Homo sapiens: one gene and its partners. The protein of the gene in region 4 purifies or fractionates together with the protein of the main gene of each other region. This does not show direct contact. Each region holds a gene or a part of one and is shown on either strand. Other genes may lie near its edges.

The links.
Region 1: the proteins of DEFB106A (region 4) and PCYOX1L purify together in Homo sapiens (affinity purification with mass spectrometry, with the first as the bait; one large-scale study listed by BioGRID). This does not show direct contact.
Region 2: the proteins of DEFB106A (region 4) and CEMIP2 purify together in Homo sapiens (affinity purification with mass spectrometry, with the first as the bait; one large-scale study listed by BioGRID). This does not show direct contact.
Region 3: the proteins of DEFB106A (region 4) and SERPINB7 purify together in Homo sapiens (affinity purification with mass spectrometry, with the first as the bait; one large-scale study listed by BioGRID). This does not show direct contact.

Annotation. Positions count from the first base shown.
Region 1 is NC_000005.10:149,360,090-149,365,315, forward strand, and holds part of PCYOX1L (prenylcysteine oxidase 1-like isoform 1 precursor), read left to right. Parts: intron 1-2,547; coding exon 2,548-2,754; intron 2,755-3,946; coding exon 3,947-4,121; intron 4,122-5,226. UniProt on the Homo sapiens protein: Likely to have oxidoreductase activity. Required in the mevalonate pathway to regulate prenylation and enhances the bactericidal activity of neutrophils.
Region 2 is NC_000009.12:71,765,217-71,770,976, forward strand, and holds the start of CEMIP2 (cell surface hyaluronidase CEMIP2), read right to left. Parts: upstream 3,298-5,760; 5' UTR 3,141-3,297; intron 1-3,140. UniProt on the Homo sapiens protein: Cell surface hyaluronidase that mediates the initial cleavage of extracellular high-molecular-weight hyaluronan into intermediate-size hyaluronan of approximately 10-5 kDa fragments.
Region 3 is NC_000018.10:63,773,102-63,778,915, reverse strand, and holds the start of SERPINB7 (serpin B7), read right to left. Parts: upstream 3,499-5,814; 5' UTR 3,200-3,498; intron 1,136-3,199; exon of another isoform or gene 1,091-1,135; intron 1-1,090. UniProt on the Homo sapiens protein: Might function as an inhibitor of Lys-specific proteases. Might influence the maturation of megakaryocytes via its action as a serpin.
Region 4 is NC_000008.11:7,822,735-7,828,416, reverse strand, and holds the start of DEFB106A (beta-defensin 106 precursor), read right to left. Parts: upstream 3,279-5,682; 5' UTR 3,241-3,278; coding exon 3,192-3,240; intron 1-3,191. Other genes in the region: DEFB105A (beta-defensin 105 precursor), read left to right, coding at 4,579-4,648, 4,994-5,035. UniProt on the Homo sapiens protein: Has antibacterial activity. Acts as a ligand for C-C chemokine receptor CCR2.

The DNA of each region.
Region 1 (5,226 bases), on a different chromosome or scaffold from region 4:
CAGAATTCACTGCTTCCCCTTCAGGACTCCCTGGAACCCTGTTGCACTTCATCATGGGTTGTCGTTGCTAATTGCGCAGGAGTCTGTCTGCCCATTCCATGCTGGGGTCCTGGGGGACAGAAGCCTGTTTGATTTTTCTTTGTGCCCCAGGACATCTTACTGTAAATTAGAGAATTGGTGTCAGTTGTGTTAAATGAGCTGGTTCACAATGAAGTGGTGTCTTCTGCTTCCTGATCTTGGGCAGCTTCTAGGCCTTAATATCAATTTCTCTGGAAAAATGGGTAATTTGGGACTCTTTGCACATGGAGGGGATGGGAGCACACTGGTTAAAATAAAATCCAAAGCTGTCTTGGAAGTGGCTTTGTAAGTACTGTGAGAGGAAGTGGTTTATTCTTTCAACACAGAAAAAATACTTCATGAACTCTACTGTCCACCAGGATCTGGGGACATAGTGATCATGCACTCTCTCTCTGTCCTTAAATAACTTGACTACAGTACGGCTAAGCAGAGTGTGCTGTGGGAATATGCAGGAGGAACACCTGACTCACCTCAGGTGGGTCAGTCAAGCCAAGTTATAGGTGACATCTGAGGGCTGTTGAAGCCAGTGAGACACAGGGTGATGGCACTCCTATCAAAGGGAACAGCTCGGACAAAGGCCCAGGCATGAGAGAACAAAGCTATGTGCCCACAATAAGAGAAGCCTAGACAGACAAGAAGGTGGCATCTTGGGAGGGTAAAGCAGGAAATGGAATAAGTAAGCAGAGGCCAGATCATAGAGAACCTGGTGCTGTCTGAGGATTGCCTGTGACTTCTGGCAGGAACTGGTACTCTGTGGGTCCAAATGGGTCCAGTAAGGACAAATTACACCAGATTTATTTAATTTTCTTTTGGGGTAAGGCCTCTGGACTGTCTGATGAGAAGAGAGTGGTGTTTCAGATACATGGTGAGCAAAAATTATAGGTAGGGTGGTAGTCCAGTTCAGTAGCTTCATAGCTGGTTTATAGTTCTCTCACAGGACTGTTTAATGATTAGTGTCAGGTGAGGCACAGTGGCTAATGCCTGTAATTCCAGCACTTGGGGAGGCCAAGGCAGGAGGATCACTTGAGCTCAGGAGTTCAAGACCAGCCTGGGCAACATGGTGAAACCTCATCTCTACGAAAAATATGTCGGGCATGGTGGCATGTGCCTGTAGTCTCAGCTACTTGGGAGCCTGGGAGGTTTGCAGTGAGCCAATATCATGCCACTGCACTCCAGCCTGGGCAACAGAGCCAGATCCTGTTTGAAAAAAAACTGATTGATGTCTGTCCAGGCAGTGGTTTCCTAGCAGCACCTCCAAGCCCTGTCCCAGGAAACATTCTTATCAGTGACTTCGATGAGAATAGTGATGGCATGTAAACCAAGTTTACAAATAACAGGAAGGCAGGAGGTACAGTAAAGACAGTGTATGATAAGACCCAAAAAAGCTGAAACTTTGTAACAAGATTTCAAACTGGAATATAGTGTCCTGTAGGGTAATGAACAATCCATCATAGAGTACATTCCAGTCTCTTTTTTTTGAGATGGAGTTTTGCTCTTGTTTCCCAGGCTGGAGTGCAATGGCACGATCTCAGCTCACCACAACCTCCGCCTCCCAGGTTCAAGCGATTCTCCTGCCTCAGCCTCCTGAGTAGCTGGGATTGCAGGCATGCGCCACCACACCCAGCTAATTTTGTATTTTTAGTAGAGACAGGGTTTCACCATGTTTGTCAGGCTGGTCTCGAACTCCTGACTTCAGGTGATCTGCCCCCGCTAGGCCTCCCAAAGTGTTGTGATTACAGGCGTGAGCCACCGCGCCTGGCAGATACATTCCAGTCTTGACAAACACAGACATAAGGATGATTTAGGTGTCCGATAGTAGGTTGGACTAGACCAGGAGTTGGCATACTTTTTTCTGTAAATGGCCAGAGAGTAAATATTTTAGGCTTTTCAGGCCATGCAGTCTCTGTTGCAGCTACTCAACTCTGCCTAAAATGAAAACAGTCATAGACAATAATTGAAAGAAAGAGCATCATGGCTGTGTTTCAATAAAACTCTAGTTTGCAAAAACAGGCATCTTTCTGGATTTGGCCTGCAGGCTGTAGTTTGCCAATCCCTGGATTAAGGCCTGGTTTCCAAACACTGATCACTGAACAGAACTGGTCAGTAACTTTTAACAATTCATAGGGAAATAAGAAAGTTAGAAGCAAGGTAGTGAGTTTTATATAAAACTAAATTTATTCTCTTTAATTGGTCATCCTGACTTTCAGTATTCTTTGCTGGTCTTTTGCTGCAAAATACCTTTTTCTTTATGAAACGAAAGTATAGTAGGCAGCAGTTTTCAGGTTTGCCTTTGCTTATTAATAGCTCTACTGACAACTCAGTCCGCAGATTTCCTTTTGGAAATGTTATAAGCCTAGGAAATTTAAGCACCTGGGAACCACCAGCGCAGGAGGATACAAAGTGTGAACTACAGCCTCTCACTCTCATGTTCTGTCTCTCTTCTTCCCTACCTCCCGGGCCTGCTGACAGCGGTGGTTGGGGCTGGGATTGGGGGCTCTGCTGTGGCCCATTTTCTCCAGCAGCACTTTGGACCTCGGGTGCAGATCGACGTGTACGAGAAGGGAACCGTGGGTGGCCGCTTGGCCACCATCTCAGTCAACAAGCAGCACTATGAGAGCGGGGCTGCCTCCTTCCACTCCCTGAGCCTGCACATGCAGGACTTCGTCAAGCTGCTGGGTGAGTGGTCAGTCCTGGGGCTCCAGTGCCCAGCGCCCTGGGGCTGGTGACAGCACTGGGCCCTTCTCAGACTTCCCAGACCATCAAGGCCAGAAGGTCATGTGGCCCAATCTCATTTTACAGATGGAGCAACAGAAACAAGAGAGGGGAAGGAACTTGCCTGAGGTTACACAGTGAGTTAGTTGCAGAGCCGGGATTAGAACTCAGGTTTGACTCCTAGGCCAGTTTCTTTCCCTTTCAATTTGCTGCCTCTAAATAATCGTGATTATATCACCTTCCACATGCTAGTGCTTGCCAGGCACCTTCTGGGTGGTATGTAGGCATTACCTCAGCTCCCCTCTACCAACCTGCAAGATGAGTGTTATATCTCCTCTTAAGGCAACTGAGGCTCAGAAAATGTATAGATTTAAGCTAAAGCCATTACAGCGAGAGGTGGGATTCAAACCCAGCAGCATCTGTCCAATACACGTTCTGTTTGATGCAGAAACTCTGCTTCTCAGAAGTGATGCTACAGGTGGTCTTACAGATGTGCAAAGTAGCATAGATACCAAGTTATTCACTACAGCATTGTTTGTAATAGCAAAAGGCTGAAAGTATCCTAGCTGCCTATCCACTAGGACCTGGGGTTAAACAAATTATTGTATAACTACACAATAGGCTGTTCAGCAGTCAGAATGGGGAAGTCTTTATGCCCAGATACAGGGCAATCTCCAAGATACAGTGTATTGTTAAAGTGGAGAGCAGTGTGTGTAGTATGTGGGGGTGGGGAAGGAACAAGTCATAGCAGCTCTGTCTGTGTTTAGGAGTCCACTGCTCTGTCAAGTTGCAGAGTGCAGGATGGCTGTAAGGAGCTAGGATAACTTCCAAGTGATCTCAGTGCCCAAGGCCACCATCTCCAAACAAGCCCAGTGGCTGTCACCCCCTGGACATTCTGGGATAAAATCTGAATTTCCCTCACTTGTGGATCCTCCTGGGGAAAAAAAATGTAAAATGTTACATTATTTTCATTTTCATTTTTTTATTGACTTGGTAGTCCAAACATTTTCCCAGTGCATCTGTTTACTGTTTATTAACAAGCAGCACAAATGAACAAACCATAGCATTTGTGTTTCCTTTAATGGACCAGTCCATTTGCATCAAGAGGGCCCCAAGTCTTGGAGGGGACCTGAGGGGCTCCTCTTTGTCTCTGCAGGGCTGAGGCACCGGCGCGAGGTGGTGGGCAGGAGCGCCATCTTCGGCGGGGAGCACTTCATGCTGGAGGAGACTGACTGGTACCTGCTGAACCTCTTCCGCCTCTGGTGGCACTATGGCATCAGCTTCCTGAGGCTGCAGATGTGGGTGGAGGAGGTCATGGAGAAGTTCATGAGGTAGGGCTGGCAGAGCTGTGGGGATGGCGTTCCAGGGGAACCGAGAAGAGGTGGGGGAGGAACCAGCTTGCCTGTACTTTGTGAAAAAGGAAAAGGTCCTTGCTGAATTGAGCCAGCACAATTCAGTGCAGGCTCAGAGCAAGCCCCTGGCATGAGGAATGGCCGTATTTGGTCCAGTAATGGTCTCCCTAGTATTGTCACATTGACTCTCATTTTCTTACCCTCTACTACACTGATACTAATAAAAGCATGGGTTGCAAACTCAGTCGCTTAACAAGGGCTGAACTGGGATGCGAGTCAGTGAATCAGCAGGTGGAAGAGAGCAGAACAAGGCCCCCTCTGAAGGAGGCAGCCAGCCCTCCACCGCAGCCATCTGCAGCCAGCCGTGTACAATGCCCACCTCATGTGGCTAGATCTACTCACTTTTCAGAAGAAGCTGGAAATCCAGAGTCGTGTGTGAAATCTTTTCAGTTTTTCAACATTTGCAACCAATTCATCTTGTAAGCCAAATGAAACACTTCTGCAGGGCAGATGCAGCCTGTGGACCACTCATTTGCAAACTTTGTTGTCCTCATTTTTCCATCTAGAATAAACACCTTTCTTCACCACTCCTCCTATCCCTGGGCTCCAGCCCCCTCCCCATCACCTTTGGTCCCAGATGTGGAGGGCAAGTGGTCTGTTCCCTCCCTGTTCACCAAGCTGTCACTCCACCTTTCCCCAAAGTCCCTCCTGAAGGTGCTCCCTGCTTCCAGCCTAAGGCGCAGGGGCTGCTCCCCGGACCCCATCACTGTCTGCCTCCCTTCAGTGTCACTCAAGTGTGGCCTGTGCCCTCCTGCCCTGGTTCCTGGCACTTCTCCACTCCCTTCCCATTCTATAACTCTGCTGTTTATAGCACTTCTTCCTTATATTCTCCAGATGTCACCCAAAGCTTATTTCCTTACCTCTCTTTCTGATATTTTTCTCCCTTATCAATTATATCCAGACCAATAATGTTGACTTCTACGTTTTATGGGAAATGACTTCTCCCTCTCAGCCCTAGTTTCCTCTTCACTTCCAGACCCACATTTCAACTTTCTGGACACCTCCATCTCGTGTCCTATTGATA
Region 2 (5,760 bases), on a different chromosome or scaffold from region 4:
TTCTGGAAAGGGCCAATAAAATGAAAATCTGTAGCTGAGACCTGATTAAGCTATGATTTATATCTATTTATAGCTTTAAAAAACTTTTGAAAGTACCTTTTGATACCAGACAGCATTAGCCTGTACAGTACTTTATCATATATTAATACATAGCAAACTTACTCAAATTGAATCCCCAAAACATTCCCATAAAGCATTTTAAAACTCCTTTTTCAGGTGAAGAAACAACGTGAGAAGGATTAGGGGATTTGCCCACAGCAAATGTTTAGCAAGTGCCAAGCCTTGTTTTAAATCCAAGTCTGACTTCAAGTCCTCCAATCTTCACCATTTTAAGATAGTACTTCTGACACTAGTTTTCAGTCCCTACTATTTTGTCTGATTTAACAAATTTTATTTCTCACAAAATTGCTCCCCCACCCCCAACTGTTCCTTCTCTGGCTTCTTAGAGCGTTCTGTGCGTAATTCTCCCAGACATGCACTTATTGGACCTTCTAATTGTTCATTTCCTTATGTCCGGGGCTAGGCTCATTTCTTCAATAGCAGAGATTGTCATCTCTCTAGTTGCAAGTGACACAGGTATCTTCAATCCCTGTGGCCTCCCGGGTTGCAACCACTTCAACTCCTTCTCTTTACCAACATGAATGCTCCACAAAGCAGGTGTTGCAATTGCTTCCAGAGGGTCTGGACCACAATAGGTGATTAATAAGTGCTAGCTGAATGGATGGTGGGTGGGTGAATGATGCAATGCTCATACATATTTTAGAGCACACATCACAATGCACACATTTACATACAGCACTCCATGTGAGTCTAAGACCATGAATTTGGTAGTGATTATTGTTTCTTCTTTTTTTTCTTTTTTTTTTTTTCAGATGGAGTCTCGTTCCCATCACCTAGGTTGGAGTGTAGTGGCACGATCTCGGCTCACTGCAACCTCCACCTCCCAGGTGCAAGCGATTCTCCTTCCTCAGCCTCCCGAGTAGCTGGGATTACAGGCGTGCACCACCACACCTGGCTAATTTTTTTTTGTATTTTTAGTAGAGATAGGGTTTTACCATGTTGGCCAGGCTGGTCTCAAACTCCCGACCTCAGGTGATCCACCTGCCTCGGCCTCCCAAAGTGCTGGGATTACAGGCGTGAGCCAATTGTGCCCGGCCTAAGTTTCCTCTTTCTAAAATGTGGCTTGTCTTTCTCAATTTCAGAAACTTGCCCAAAGCATGTAGCTCTAAGCAGTACCCTGTCAACTTCAAGATAATGGCCCACAAGACTACATTACCCTCCAGCTTGTCTTTTCTTGATAGCTGTTTGAGGACAGCATTGATTAGGCCTATTAGAACATGACTGAAGTGTTGCCCCATTCTGGTTTCCTGTTATGAATCTGACATTTCTGAAAAGTCACTGGTTACAGACTAGATCAAGGAAGGAGACTACTCAAATAATTAACTGTGACACAGAATATCCAGATAAACACCATGTAAGAATTTACAGATTCTATTTCCCTGTCCACACACAGGAGAGTCCTCAGCTCACTATCTCATTCACAGGTTAATAAGAACAGGTGATGACTCAGAATTCGCTTCTAATCTTAGTTTTCTGAGCCTTTAAGCACACATACATCAGAAAAAAACAGCGTCAGGAGGACTGAACAGAAAGCCAGAAGACAGATTTCCAGTTCCGCCCAAACTGATCCTCTAATGCAGGTACACAGAAGCTGGGGGAAGTCATTTCGGTGTGAAGAGAAAAGCACTCTAAAGTGCTACCCAATGTTTACTAAGCAGAGGACATGCCTACTACACATTCTTCTGCTTTGCCCAGAAATGCAAACTAAAAAGAACCCTTTGTATAGGTAATCAGACCCACAACCACAGTATGATACCCAGACCAATTCTGAAAAGAACAAGCGTCCTTCAAGGGTCAAATAAGCATTAGTAGCTCCATTCTAGCCAACCAAAGAAAGATAAGGCTAACCATTTTAAAGGTGTTTTTTTAACACTGAGCCATTTCCAACAGATTTGCCTGGCTGCTCTGGGGAGTCAGGCCTCCCTCAGCTCAGGTGAAGCCTCTACCCTTTCCCCTCTCTCTAAATTCTTCTCACTTTTTACCGGGAAGAGCAGCACATCTCAATACATGCAACTGTGCAGCAGCGCATCACTCTGTCACACTGAATCAAGGGGAGTGAACTCAAGGCAGTGAGTAGCTCATGTGCACAATGAAAGTTTTAAAAATTATTAGGCAGTCTATCCTTAATCCCAACTGCTGATAAAAGGAGATATATATCAAAGTCTGTTTTCCTAACCTGCGGAGAATTCAAGTGAGCTGTTTCCGCTCCAGGTCGAAGTCTGGTGACACTCATCAACCCTCAGCAGAGAGCATCCAGGGAATTCAGGACCTTGGTTTTATCGCTAAGGGTGTAGCCACTAGTGCTATTAACAGCAGCACTCTGGGTCCTCACAGAGAGGGCCCCCCTCCTTTACCAGGATCTCCCAACTCTGCAGAGAAAAGCTGGGAATAGGGTCCAGGGCTAAGGCTATTCCCCAGATTTAAAGGAAGCTGTACACGATTTTAAAGCCTCACCTTACCTCAGCTAACAGAGAGGCAGGGGGCGGAGGGCGGAGGACCCACCAACCCAGGGGAATTGTAAGGAGACAAAGATGACCCCAAACGCACAAGCGCGCGCGCACTGAAGCCCGGACTGCAAAGCACATTCCATCAACCTTTCACTGTAATCGGCTTACTGTGGGGTTTATCCCCTCACCCCATCCCTCTCCAGAAAGTTTAAGGCTGTTCGCACCGACTTTGAAAGGTCCATTGTTCCCTTCCCCGTAAACGTAATGAAAAGAGAGAGTGGAGAGAAAGAAATCAAGACACCGTTCCCGAGGACCCTTTCTTAAGAAGAGAGGACTGACTCCTGGGGAGTCGGGTCAGTCCCAATCCAGAGATGAAACCGGGAAAGGAGGCGCACGGGGGAAGGGCGGGAGGACGTTTTCCTTTTCGGCAGAAATGCCCAACGCCGGAGCCGGCCAGGCCGCCGGGAGCAGAAAAGGTGGGCGAGACCCGGGTCTGCGTCCCCGCAGTGGCCCCCGAGGGCAGCAAACGAGGTGGAGCGGGGTGGGGGGGCGGGTGACCGAGTCGCTTCTTACCTTCCCCTACCCCGCTTAGCGTCCGTTAACTCAGGTGCCTACACAGCGGTCCAGGGAGACGGAGAGGAGTCCCTGGCGTCCTCGGGTCCAGATCTCCTCTCCATGGCCAGGAAGCCACTCGATTGCCGGCGCCCGCAGCTGCCGCTCGTACTCAACTGGCAGCCGCAGCCTCTGCCTGGAGGTGAAATACTCTCCTCCCGAGAGTGACGCGCACTTCCCTCCGCCTCCGCCTCCTCCTCCTCCTCCTCCTCCTGCCCCGAGCCTCGGGGGCAGGGGCCTCGGCTCGCTCTCTCCCGGAGCCGCCGCTCGGCTTTCTCCGTTCCTTCCCCTCCGGGAGAAAGAGGAGGAGAATCGTGGCCCGGGCGGCGCGGGCCTGAGCGTCCCCGCGACAACAGGGGAGGAGGCGGCGGCGCGGGGCAGAGTGGGGTCCCAGGAGTCGCTCTTGTCCCTGGTCGGCGGGCGCCGCGGCTTGCTAGGGTCGCGCTCAGCCTCCGCCGGCCAGACAAGCAGCCCGGCTCGGCTGGGCCGGGAACTGTGGATTGGGCGGGCGGGCGGGCGGGCGGTGGAGAGCGAGGGAGGCGGAGGGAGAGGAGGAGCCTGCCATCAGAGGAGGCGGTGGCCCCGCCCGGCCCCTCCCGCCGGCCCCGCTCCCCGCGAGCTGCGAAAGCGGAGGCTCAGCGCCACTCGCTGCCGCGCGCTGGAACAGCGCCCGAGCGCACTGCCGGCGGGGCAGAGCCCCAGCCAGCGCCCCCCGCTGCGGCTGCAGGCTCCTACCCTTCCTGGGCGCGCACACCCGCCTGGCCGAACCGGAGCCTGTGCCTCCAGCACCCCCAGATAAGGCTGGTACTGCGCCTGTCACTCCCTGGCTGAGCCTGACACTGCGCCCCCAAAGTCCCCTGGCTGAGCGTGACTGCACCCCATCAACCCTCGGCTGCGTCAGACTTTGAGCCCCATCACCCGTAAAGAGATTTCCACACTCCCACAAATGTTCTGAGCGTCCAGTCACAGCCCCTACCTGGCCAGGCGCGAGCGCCAGGTTCTCAGCGCTGTCAGAAGAACCAGCCTGCTCTGGGACACAGGGCAGCTCTTCTGGTCCCTTGGAGCAACCCCAGCATCCCGCTCGCAGGCCGGAATAAATATACTTAGGTCTTCCCACGCCCCCTACCTGCGCCACTCTGGAGTGGCGGCCGCTTGCAGAGGTGGCGCCGAAAGCCACGCCCCGGCCCACCCCAGTGCCAAAACGCCGCTCTGAGGACACCGGCACCGGCCCTGAAGCAGCCCTGCCGCCGCCACCCTGCCCCCTCGCTGGAGCTGCTCTCACAGCCTTGGCTCTGGGTGAGGGCGCGGCCCGGGCTGGATCACTCAGACGCACGAGGTCCCGAGCTAGTGACAGCTGCAGGACTGCCAAATCCGGGCCGTCGTCATCCTCGATTTAATTGGAATTGGAAGTTTTCCCTCCAGGAAACTCTTTCAGTGAATAATATACAAGGTAGGATAGTTTAGTTTTCAGGGTTGTTCATTCCTCCTCCCTCAACAAACTCAGTCCTGTAACCGCGACACACCCGGCAGTGAAGGGGAATCCCCTATTTCAAGGGTATTAGTTCAGGACTTTGTATAAGAAATTACTGTTTCCAAATCTTGGCTGATGATAAGAATCCCCTGGGGCACTTAGAAAAAATTGGATTGCCAGACGTCGCGCAATCTACTGAATCAGAGGTATCGGGAATATGTAAGTTTGGGAAACAGGGCTAGAATGCATCCTCTAATTAATTAAAGCCTTGGAAAGATGCCTCCAAAACAGCAGCGCGAGCTAGTGCTGAGATCTTACAGAAACTTCACCCAGCTGCCTTTGAGAGCCGCTGTCCCTTCTGGGATAGGCAGGGAGGAAAGGTTTTTAAAATAAGGAACATAGTTTTGAATAACAAGATGGAAGGGACAAAAGACTGTTTTCATGGTCCAAAGGTGTTTTGGATTGTGCTTAATAAAGATAGAAACTGTGTCACCCGTGTGCTAGGCTGAAAAATGTTCCCTCCCCAGAGATAACAGGTTCTAAGTCCTGGAACTTGTGCATATTACCTTACATAGACAGAAGCAGGGCCTTCGCATATGTGATTCAATTAAGGGTCTTCTTGAGTTGGGGAGATTATTCTGGATGATCAAGATGGGTCCTAACTGCAGTCACATGTACTTTTATAAGGGGAAAGGGGGTGGTTAGCACACACAGAGGAGGGCTGGCCACTGTGGAGGCAGAGATTGAAGCGATGCCTCCACAAGGCAAGGAATGCCAGCACAGAGGCAAGGATTCTCCCCTAGAAACTCTGAAGTGAGCAAGATCCTGCTGACACCTTGATTTTGGCCCAGTGAAACTGAGCGCAGTCTCCTGCTTCCAGAAGTGTGAAAGAATAAACTTCAGTTGTAAGCTACACTGAGTTTGGGTGATATGTTGCAGCATAGGAGGCCTGTGCTGGGCCAACTTTATATTACAAATATCCATTTTTTGAATCCTTATTAAGTGCCAGGCACTTTGCTTGGAGTTAGGATATGTTATGGGATATGTTGTCTAATTAAATCCTCCCACTAATTATTATTTCCGTTTTAAAGATGGGACAGTAGGACTTGA
Region 3 (5,814 bases), on a different chromosome or scaffold from region 4:
ATGCAATTAATTTATAATTTTAAAGTTAACACAAATTAGCACGTACTCATGGATGTTTTTACATCCCAAACTTCAGACTTGAGGGTCTAAAAGTCCATGGCAGCCTGAAGCCTATTTGATTCCTTATGGTCTATTTCAATCTGAGAACTTTTTTATCCCTTTCATCCTTTAGCTAATATATTATTAGCATCAAAACAACAATAAAAATAGATATTTTCTCACTAAACCTTCTTTTTAAAGTTTAATAAAAAGCAAAAAGTAGTTTTTAAATAAAGCATAAGAAAATTCAGGCACAAAACACATTCAATAAAACATAAAGTTATGATACTATTTTATGGACCTAAACTTATTACACCTAACTGATAAATTATGTGCCTTAAATGCTTGATAAAAGTATTATCTAGTCTTAGGATACTTTTGCCTGTATATAGAAAATTAATTATAGTTCATGACACATTATTTTTTAAAAAAGCTTTTATATTTACTGAATTAGGATATACATATAGGAAAGAAATGAATAATCCCTTGAATGTGATTAATTTTTATTCTTATCAATAAGTCAAATACGATGCTATACAGATACTCTTGGAAGAAATATTTTAAAATCTTTGTATTTCTTTTAAAAACATAGTTTCAAATTTTGATCAACCTCTAATCAAATTAGTATATTATGCACTTAAAAGAGTTCAATTCTAATCTCAAAATCTAGTATATTCCAACCTATAATGCCTTAAATAAGAACACAGGAAATATAGAATCTAGATTTGCACATAATCCCTACTTATCTCTTCAAAGATGGAACACAAATTTTTCAGCTGGCATCCGATTCCCATGCCATTCTCCCATGACACCACTTAAATCAGTCATAGACAAGCTGTAAGGTGGAGAAGCAGACAAGAGGACCATTATCCGATCTGGATGTTGTGTGATGAGTTTAATGTCTCAGACACAAAGTAACCAAGATTTATTTCTCTCTCTCTCTCTGTGTCTGTGTGTGTGTGTGTGTGTGTGTGTGTGTGTGTGTGTGTGTGTGTGTCTTTTTTCAAAGGATCTGGCCAGACTTTAAATTATGGACTTCAGAAGTATTTACCTTACTGTCTTCATAGAGGAAGTTGGCCGCTGGTTGGGTGAGTCTGAAAGAGTTCTTTGCATTACTCTGAAATATAAAGCCTCTGACTCAGACACTCCCTACTTTTTTTTTTATGATGGCCATGATAGTTTTAAATAATGTCATTAAAATAAATATATTCAGATGCTTTATAGAGCAATTTAAAAGAAGTCTGTAGAATATTAGCTATAGCTCTAATTCAAAGTAGTCAAATAGATATTTTTAATGAATCAAATTTTAGCATGAAATGTTATTTCATTTGATATTTAGTATCACATAGTATTTTTATGTAGTAAATTTAGATATCCTTACATTAAGGCACAACTGGCACTTCTTACATGTGGAAATGTAGTTACTGATTTTTGTTATTGTTTATTTGATTCCTCCCTGCTCTGATTTTGGTATTTGATGAATATGACCGAGCCCCACCTGGAATAATTCATATTCTGACATCTATAAATTCAACTGTCATAGAGGAGTAGCACTGCAGTCCCAGAGAGGTGAAGAAAGCAAAGTGCTATAGAATAGAGTGGGCCTTTTCTCATCCATAAAATAAAAATTCACACCAATTACATTTTCATTAGTACACACACACATATATATATGTGTGTGTTGCTATGTATGTGTATAATCACTAACATGGTATTTATGCTGTATTTGGGGAACATTGTATTTAAGGGAGGCAGGTGAGCTGTCCCTCTCAAGAGAAGTAGGGTTGTACCTCACATAGTGTTTCTGACTTTATCTTACACATTATTTCCCACAAGTGTTTGCCCATACTGCCTTTATTTTCGTTGTATGATTAATGCTAAAATTGAGTATGCTGACTGTTTGAAGCTCTCTAAGGTGAATATGCTATCAGAGAGAGAGATGCGTTAGAATATATTGAACACATGGAGAGGGATATCTACCCCCATCAGAAAAGAAATACATTAGTGATAGGAACTTAGAAACCAAATAAATATCCAAAAAATGAGCAAATTTGATAATTATTAACTCCAGAGAAAGCTTACATTGTGAAAAGTATATCATAGTACACTTTATAGATCAACTGTGGATAAAATTATCATAGTCTTAATGATTTAAACCCCCCAGTCCTTGTTAGACGTCCATTGGGACCCACTTCTTCCCTTTGTCTACCAGAGCTTCTCACAGACCTTGGTTTATCTAGTATACCCAAAAACTATGCTTCATACCAGGACATGGTCTTTCAATTCGCACTATCTTAAGGCACACAAGAAGGTTTCTGACCACAAAACTCTACCCTCATCTTCTCAAGACTGTCTGAAATCACCACAGCAGTAGCCATCAGCTCCCACGCCACTGATAGAAGTAAGGTTTAGAAGGCAAATAAATCAGGCACGAAAGAATACACACAGTAAGATGCCCTTCATGAAAAGATCAAACCAGACAAAACTGTTTTTTAATGGATGCTTACATGGGTGGATAGACTAAGCCACGGATATAACTGCTTTAGTTACCCCTAGTGGGTGGGGAGGTTTTGTTGGTGAAAGAATGGGGAGGGAGGTTTTAGAGGTTCTGGTGATGTTCTATTATTAAATTGTATGCATCTATTGAATTCATCTTTATGTAGCTACATTATATTTCATTATTTTAAAACTCAACAGCAACAACAAAAAAAACATGAAGCCAAATGACCTAATGCCTCTGGGATAGGGTCATGGCGCATTGTGTATAACTGATAATTGATCTATTCCTGATAGCAGGTTTTGATGGACAATGGGCTGGGACACCAAGCCAAGGATACACAGGCATCAGTGAGGTAAAGAATAGGATGCAAAATAAGTCCAAGACTGACTGACATGGCCCAAGGAAGAGACCACGGGTCACAGTGTTCTCTCCAGCAGAATCCAAACCCAAGCACATTTGTGTATGGTGATAAAAGCTGCCCCACCAGAAAAGCATCCCTCCAAGGAGGCGACCTGGAGAGATTTCAGGCCTCTGAGCATGATCATTGGCCATTTACATCTTCCTTGAGATTCGTTAGTGAACTTACCTCTTGCCTACAACAGAAGATAAGAGCAATAATGTAAATCAATAATTGGATAAGCAAATCAACAGTGTACTCACGCTAGCATCTGATACCCAGAAGCAGTGATGGGAATCTGGTCTCCTTTCTCTAGGTGATCTGTTCTCACTCACAAAGAAAATGTTTCCACACTTCTCAAGACTGTTGAGCCCTAGGTATTTTCCCCCATGCACTTAGGAAGGTGATGAAGGAGAGCTTCGAAGGGAGCCTGTTTTACCACTACCTAATGAACCAAAGTCAGCATTTCTAGACAAAAATTTGTTCTAAAATTCTGAGAATTCAGTTTTAAAGGCTGTCCAAAGGTGCAGCCTGCACTCTGCACAGGCAGCTGCTTATTGATGAGTAGACCTGGCTTCTGGGATGGCTTCCCTATGACTCAGAGCACAGCACTGTCTCTCAAGAATCTTATAAGCATTTAGGTTTTGAACCAGGTTTCAAAATAGTATCTGACTAAGGTGGTTGTTATGTAGTTCATTCAGTTTGTATGTGAATCAGATTTCAGGAGGCAATATTCCCATCTCTGTTTCTTATAATGACAATGGTTTTAACATAACCATAAAAACAAATTTCAGAATCAACAGTATCTGTCAGCCTGGGTCAAAACATACTCTTCTGTGAGAAACACACAAATAGACTAACTAGACATCAAATCAACTAAGGCAAGATAGCAGTGACAACAGTGACTTGGTGAGTTTAGGGTGCCATTTTATTGCAACTTGCCACTCATCTTATAGCCTAATTTCTTTCAACCCTATCCTGTGTAAATTTCCCTAGCATAATGACCTAAAATAGAATCTCACACAATGTTTTTTATCATTCTCCAATCTCAGATTTTCATCTGGACCTCTAACCTTTTGAGCTGGCTTCTCTTTGTACTGCTTTCCATCCTTCCCTCTTTTTCTCAATTTTCTCTGGCTTGGAATTTTCCAGAGAAACATTTGCCCTGTTAGTTATTGCAACTGGCTTCTCTAAATGCTTACCTGAACTGAGCAGCTTCAGATAGGAGCTGAAACTTGGTGTGTTCATTCATTCTTGTCATCCTGCCAGCCTCTCCTCCACCCTTCTGATCTGGCAATGGAAAGCCACGTCTGCACCACCCAGATCCTTCCTCCTATAATACAGGCTAGAGTTTGTTAAAGTGGGTTTGCACTTTGAAAAGTGACCAGGTGTAGGGAAAGGTAGGTTGGGCCCAGTTGGTTGCCTACACCTTTGCCATCAGAACATGCCACACAGGGGCAAAAACACATTTCAGTTTCTGGCCGTAGCATCATGAGGTTGAGCTGTATGTTGCACCTACCTTCACCTGCTATGCATGGAAATGACTGCAAGCCTGGTCCTTCTGCCTGAGTGTTTTCAAAAGTACAGCCAACATTTATCCAAGTAACTGGGTTCTCTATTGTAAAAAGCTATTGGAATTAGAAGGTACCATCATCTTACAGTTGCTCGCCTCTCAATTTTGTGCAATTTTGCCTCTTTCCCAGGAAGAAGGGGGTCCTGTTAACTTATCCAAAATCGAATAAAGTAGTTATTGCTCACCTCCATGATTGTTTATGAGTAGAATAATCATAGAGAAAAGTAAAGTTGCAGAAAATCCCTGAAATTTAATTTTGATTTAGCAGTTGTGGTGAACTTTCTGAAGGAGAAGGTTGTTGTTAATATAAAAAAAAAATGAGCCTACAAATGGATTCCCTGTTCTCCATATTCTAATTGCAGTGTTCATAGGCTGAATATTTTGAATCCCATATCCTTTCTATTTCTTACCTACTGAGGATATAAAGTACTTTCAAGTGGTGAAATGGTCAATAGGTAAAAGGCAAGGGACCCACGTGACACACATACTGGATAATCTTCTTGGAATTACCAAGAGTCATCCATAATTAAGGCTCTACTCACCATTGTTTTCTTCTTCACATTAACTCAGACATCCCTCCCACTACTGTGTTTGCAACAGTTGATTTACAATTAACCAATCCCAAAGTGACATAAGTATGAGAAGAAAGCAGTCATGTGGACTGGCGTGTTACATTAATTATTCTCCCTTGCCATACAATGATAATCCAAATTTCCATTGGCCTTGCCAGTTCATGCATATAGATGAGGAAACATGAACTGTAATAACCTACATTTTACTGTCTCTTGTCCTCACTTACCCAGGGCTGAAGAGGGATTTAAGGAAACTACTAGGGATTAATTCAGGATTACACGAGGTGTCAGTAGAGAAGGCTGTGAACTCTGGTTACATAGAGCTCTGTAGTTAGGCTGAAGATATAAGAATTCTTTGGTGACCGAATACTAATGGCGAGGGCATGGTAAGGGGTGCTAGATTTAGTGTAGTGCCCAGAAAATGGAAATGACCTGGGAATACTTAATGTTCCAAATTAGGGATATTCTTTGCACATCCTAAAAGATATAAACCTATTCCCTGGAAGCTGATGTCATTTGTGTTTTATTTGTTTGCTTGATATGGTTTTTGTTGGTCCAAATTCCAGACATTGAAATTTTTATATAAACTCTGTTTACCAAATCTAACCTTTCTAATCTATCTATTTGAAGAAAATCTTGTAGTGGCAAGTTCCATGGCTTAATTGCAGATTCTATCATGTGAATTCATTCTAAGTGATTGCATGTTAGGTCTATTTTTACTTCTTGATGTATT
Region 4 (5,682 bases):
CTGAGACTGAGGAGATAGCTCCAGACCAGAGCAAAGGAAGGGATAAAGATATAAAAAGAGAATGAGTTTACTGTGGTAGATAGAAACTTGCTTGGAAGGCTCAGCCTGATTTCTCCTCCATATTCACCAAAGCAACGACTGCGGAAAACTTGTGCTTTAGAGAAGGAGGGTGCAGCATGTTGGGAATGTTTTTCTAAGATTTTCTCAGTTCATTTTGCGGAGAATTCCAGTTCCCACCTTAGGGCTTTATCAGTAGCAGTCCCAAGAGCAGCCTGCTTCAAGTTAAGGACAGACAGCACGTCTTATCAGGATCAACATTTTAGAGCTGCCCAATTTGTGTATATATAATGAAGGCATCAGATGTACAGAGATTGCATTTAATGTCTATACTATAATGTATATACATTTAATGTCAACATATAAAGGTGCCTAATTCAAATCTACATAAAACTTACAGCCAGGTGGATTAGTGCCAGCATATGCACTAATGATTATCCAGGATCAGCACATCAGTTCATAAGTGAAAATACTCCACTATTTCAAAGCTCGATGAACTCTGGCTCTCACTGGCAGGGGTCTATGTTCTCTCTGCCCTACTGTAAGGCAGATACTAATATAATACTATACTATAGACTATAGCGTGGTATTCAGATAAAATCTTTTTGGTTTAGTATAGTATCATAGTATAGCTTAGTATATACTATAAAAATACTAGTATTATAGTATATACTGGTATAATAGTGTATACTATAGTATTATACTAGTATATATACTATACTATATACTAGTGTGTTATAGTAGTATATATACTATATACCAGTGTATTATACTAGTATACTATACTATATACTAGTGTATTATACTAGTATGTACACTATACTATGTACTAGTATATAATACTACTAGTAATAATATAGTATATATACTATATTATCATACCAGTATATATACTATACTATATACTAGAGTATTATACTAGTATATATACTATATACTAGAGTATTATAATAGTATATACACTATACTATATATTAGTGTATTATACTAGTATATACACTATACTATATACTAGTGTATTATACTAGTATATACACTATACTATATACTAGTGTATTATACTAGTATATACACTATACTATATGCTAGAGTATTATACTAGTATATACACTATACTGTATACTAGTGTATATATTAGTATATACACTATACTATATACTAGTGTATTATACTAGTATATACACTATACTATATACTTGTGTATTATACTAGTATATACACTATACTATATACTAGAGTATTATACTAGTATGTATACTATGCTATATACTAGAGTATTATACTAGTATGTATACTATACTATATACTAGAGTATTATACTAGTATATATACTATATTACATACTAGTATATAATACTACTAGTAATAATATACTAGTATAATATAGTATCTGGCCAGGTGCAGTGTCTCACACCTATAATCCCAGCACTTTGGGAGGCTGAGGAGGGTGGATCACGAGGTCAGGAGTTCGAGACCAGGCTGACCAACACGGTGAAACCCCGTCTCTACTAAAAATACAAAAAATTAGCCAGGCAAGGTGGCACATGCCTGTAATCCCAGCTACTCAGGAGGCTGAGGCAGGAGAATCGCATGAACCCCGGTGGCAGAGGTTGCAGTGAGCTGAGATTGTGAAACTGCACTCCAGCCCGGGGAACAGAGTGAGACTCTATCTCAAAAAAAAAAAAAAAATATGTATATATATATATATAATATATACTAGTACAATACTATATAGTATATAATACTAGTACAATACCATACTGTAACATCAGTAAATAATTATAGTATATACTATGCTATACTATAATACTATACTAAACCAAAAAGATTTTCTCTAATACTATTGTATTATAGTATTATACTCTAGTATATCTAATAGGTAATTATTAGATTATCTAATAATTATATAACAAGCATTATGTAATTATAGATAAGTATCTGTAATTACATAATAATTATAGTAACTAATTATACTTTTATAATTATAGTATTATCTAACAGATAATTTTATAGTATATAACATCTTTTTTTTGACTTATTATATAATAAGTATGAGTGATCTGAAAAAGATACCTCTGGCCAGTTTCGAACGTGCATATCAAAACCAGTGGCCTGAATACGGCATAGGTCACTGTGGGTCCTAGATCCTCATGTTTTGACACAGAATCTACTCTCACAGGCTTGTCACAAAACAGACCAGAGCTATGAGCAGCTGATGTGAAAAGTTGAGCATCATACCTGGGATCGTATATCACTGGTATCTGGCAGAAATTGGGAGTTACTGTGGGCTCTGAGAATCCCTTTCTTCAGCTCTCTGGAGGCTCACATGAGCCTGGTCTTAAGCCTTAATTTTGAAGAGGATACAATTGGAGCCACTGGAGATTCCCAGGAGCAGGAGAAAATGAAGAGAGTTTTGATATGGGAAGGGTGTCTTTAATGCCTCTTACTGTGGCAAGACAGTTGGGCTCCTACCCTGGCTTTGTTTTGGTTATCTATAAGACTCTGAGAAGCACTGAGCCCATCTGAGGCACAATTTCTGCATCTGTAATAAAATTTGTAAAATGGACCTTCAAACCCAAAAAGATTTTCTCTAACTTCCATTAAATTAGGGGTAAGACAGAGTTTTCCGTAAAGGCGCTGGCACTGGAAGACTAGATGCATTTTATGTGAAGCTCTCATCACAGTACTTGGCTTGATGATATGTGATCAAGAAATGGCAGTCCAAGTTACGCTGCTTTACCTGTTGCCATGACTGGCATGAGTGCATAGGTGTCTCTAAGCTCAGATCCTTACCTGTCCCTTCTCCTTACCTGTCTCAATCTCTACCATAACTACATTTTAAAAGGTTCATAGACTGCTATCCTTGTTTTTAATTTTTTCTCAATTTTTGTTTTTGTTAGTGAGCATGAGATGGGATGCCAAAAGGCATCTTTCCTGGCCTTCTTTTATTCTTTCAAACCTGTGACAGCCCCTCCTAGATAACAATGTAAAATGCAAAGGAATTACAGAAGAGGCGTTGGGGAATATCACCTCTTGTAGTAGATGGGTTGATCACGCCCAGGCATTCACTGAAGGGGACCCTGTCTGTGGGACACCACCTCCGATCACCTTCCCTGTAAAGATGCCCATTTTACCTGGGGTCAGAAAGAAGAGCACGGCAAAGAGAAAGAGGAAAGTCCTCATGACTGGGTGGGTCTTGAGAGATCAGCACCGTGTCCATGAGGAAAGAGCCGCAAACACCCACATTTATACATTTCTCCAGACCAAGTAACATCTTGATCAGTGAGGCTTAGCAGAAACGAGAGGATTTCCATGCTCTGCTGCACAGAGCCCACCCAACCTCAGTGGGTGTCACTCAGTCTACAGCTCATCATATTTCTGATTCTGGAAAGTTTTGAAGAAGGAAAGTGGGGATGAAGGGAGGACAGAGTAGGGCAGACACAGAAAAAATAAAAAAATCTGGAGTCCAGTAGTTTGGTTTCTAATCCTGGCTGTGTTCCTGAACAGCTTTGGTTTACTCATATGTAAAATGGGAGTAATTATACAATATCTCAATGCTTCAGTTAAGAGCTGAGGAACCGTAGTGAGGTGGAATCTGAATTCCAGATTCAGTCTTTTTGAGCTTTGTAAACTTGGCAAAGGGCTTGACCTAAGCATATATTTGTTAAAAAATGTGAATCTTGCTGTATGCTGCACGCTTTTCGTGCTTGGTCCTGCCATGCTGCTCACCTGTACCATGGCACTGTTGGCGCAGCAAGGAGCTGGTAACCATCATGCCTTGCCCTAGACACCTGGGCTCAAGCAATCTACCTGCCTTAGGCTCCCAAAAGCTACGATAATAGACATAAGCCACCCATCTGGGCCAATATTCATGTCCTTAATGAATTTAAAATATGCAGTAATTATGGCTTTGGTGCGTGAGGTGATATCTTACAGGAAAGGGGACTCAGAGCTAACTTGACAAAATGATTGCTACCCCTCCTTTTCTCCCTGTGATACTTGTAGAGAATAAAAATGAAAGCTAGAAAAGTGAGAGTCCACATTTATTGAGTTCTTACATGGTACCAGGCCTCCTTCCAAGCATTCCACATATTCAAAACACTTTTGCATTATAATCATACTAGATTCTTACAACACCTTTAGAGGCAGGCAGAATTTGCAAGTGGGTTCTTATTTTCTCCCAGAAAACAGAAGCTGGAAGAGATGAAAGGGGTCACTATCTTCTGGCCCCTGCATTAGTATGGTGGAAACTCACATGGCCCCTGCTCTTTCAACCTCTAGCCTGGTGTTCTTTCCACTACACCAGTTAGACTCCCCAAAATAAAAGGCTTTCTGGATGCCAAGGGTTATTATCCATGATATCATCCCTTTATCCTGGGAAATGGAGCATATAATTGTGTTTTATTGATTCACTTCACGGATCAAGAGCATCTCCCCATTACTTTTAAATAAAAATGAGCCTCTCATTTGGGTCTTCTCAAGGAAATCCCAATCTCTATTCCGAAGAGTCTTCCCTAAAAGATGGCCCTGATCAGGAAGACATTTTATTTTCTATTTGCTATGTTCTTCATTTTGGTTCAACTGCCATCAGGTAAGTAAAAATGGATGGGATTTTGATTGGGCAGATTATAAAGCCTGTTGATTCTTCCATGTTTGACCTTAATGGTCAAGCTCTCATGGCACCTGTCATGGGAATTTCTTAGACCTACAGTGACATTTACTAAGAGCAAACAGCATATAGTGTATTTTTTTTTTTTTGTAATTTGTTTTTGCTGGTTACCTGGAATGCTGGCCTTGAGAAACAGAATAAAGATTGCAACTCTGTGATCTACTGTCTCCTGTTATGCTATGTCACATGTGAAGTTGGGAGTGTTTTATACAGTGTTAATTCCTGTGTTGATTTTAATTTTCAAAATGTATTTTGTTTTGAATTTAGGGTGCCAGGCAGGACTTGATTTTTCCCAACCATTTCCATCAGGTAAGTTAAATCTCTTGTATATAATTATTTTTTCTCTTAGGAGCTCTGGCGCTGTTAGCTCTCTCTGATGTCTGGAGGCAAAGAGGGGACAGAGATAGTGGCAGAAATAGAATTGTCTGAAAAATCAGTTCACTAACTTATCTCCTTCTCTTTCTCTTGTTCCAAGTATAATATTTGGATATTTTTGATTTCACAGAAAAATATCTTTGTGACTGGACTGTAATTTGGCCATAGAGATTTGGACTCAGTGGCTTTTCCCATTAGCTGTTGGTGCTCACTAAACCAAGTTCTTAGATTTATTCTTGTACCAGCCAATTAGCACTGCTCTGTGAACACGCCTGCCCATCTCTTGCAAGCTCTGCTGCTAAGTCTGGTAATAATATATGTCACAAATGCATGAGGTTAGTTGAAGGAAGCTCAAATTAAAGAGTGAGGTTGCCTCAGTGAAAACTCAGCACCATTGCAGAAAAGCTATTCATAACGAATAGCCCCCAGATCTTTTCTTTTTCTTTGAAGTCATCTTATACAGAAAGAAAGGACATTGTAAACAAAACTAAAAGAAATATTGTAGACAAAGTTGAAATGGTTTTAGACAGAATTTCAAAGTGAGAAATATGAAGGTTGCTACTAGTCCTTGAGTGTTTGCT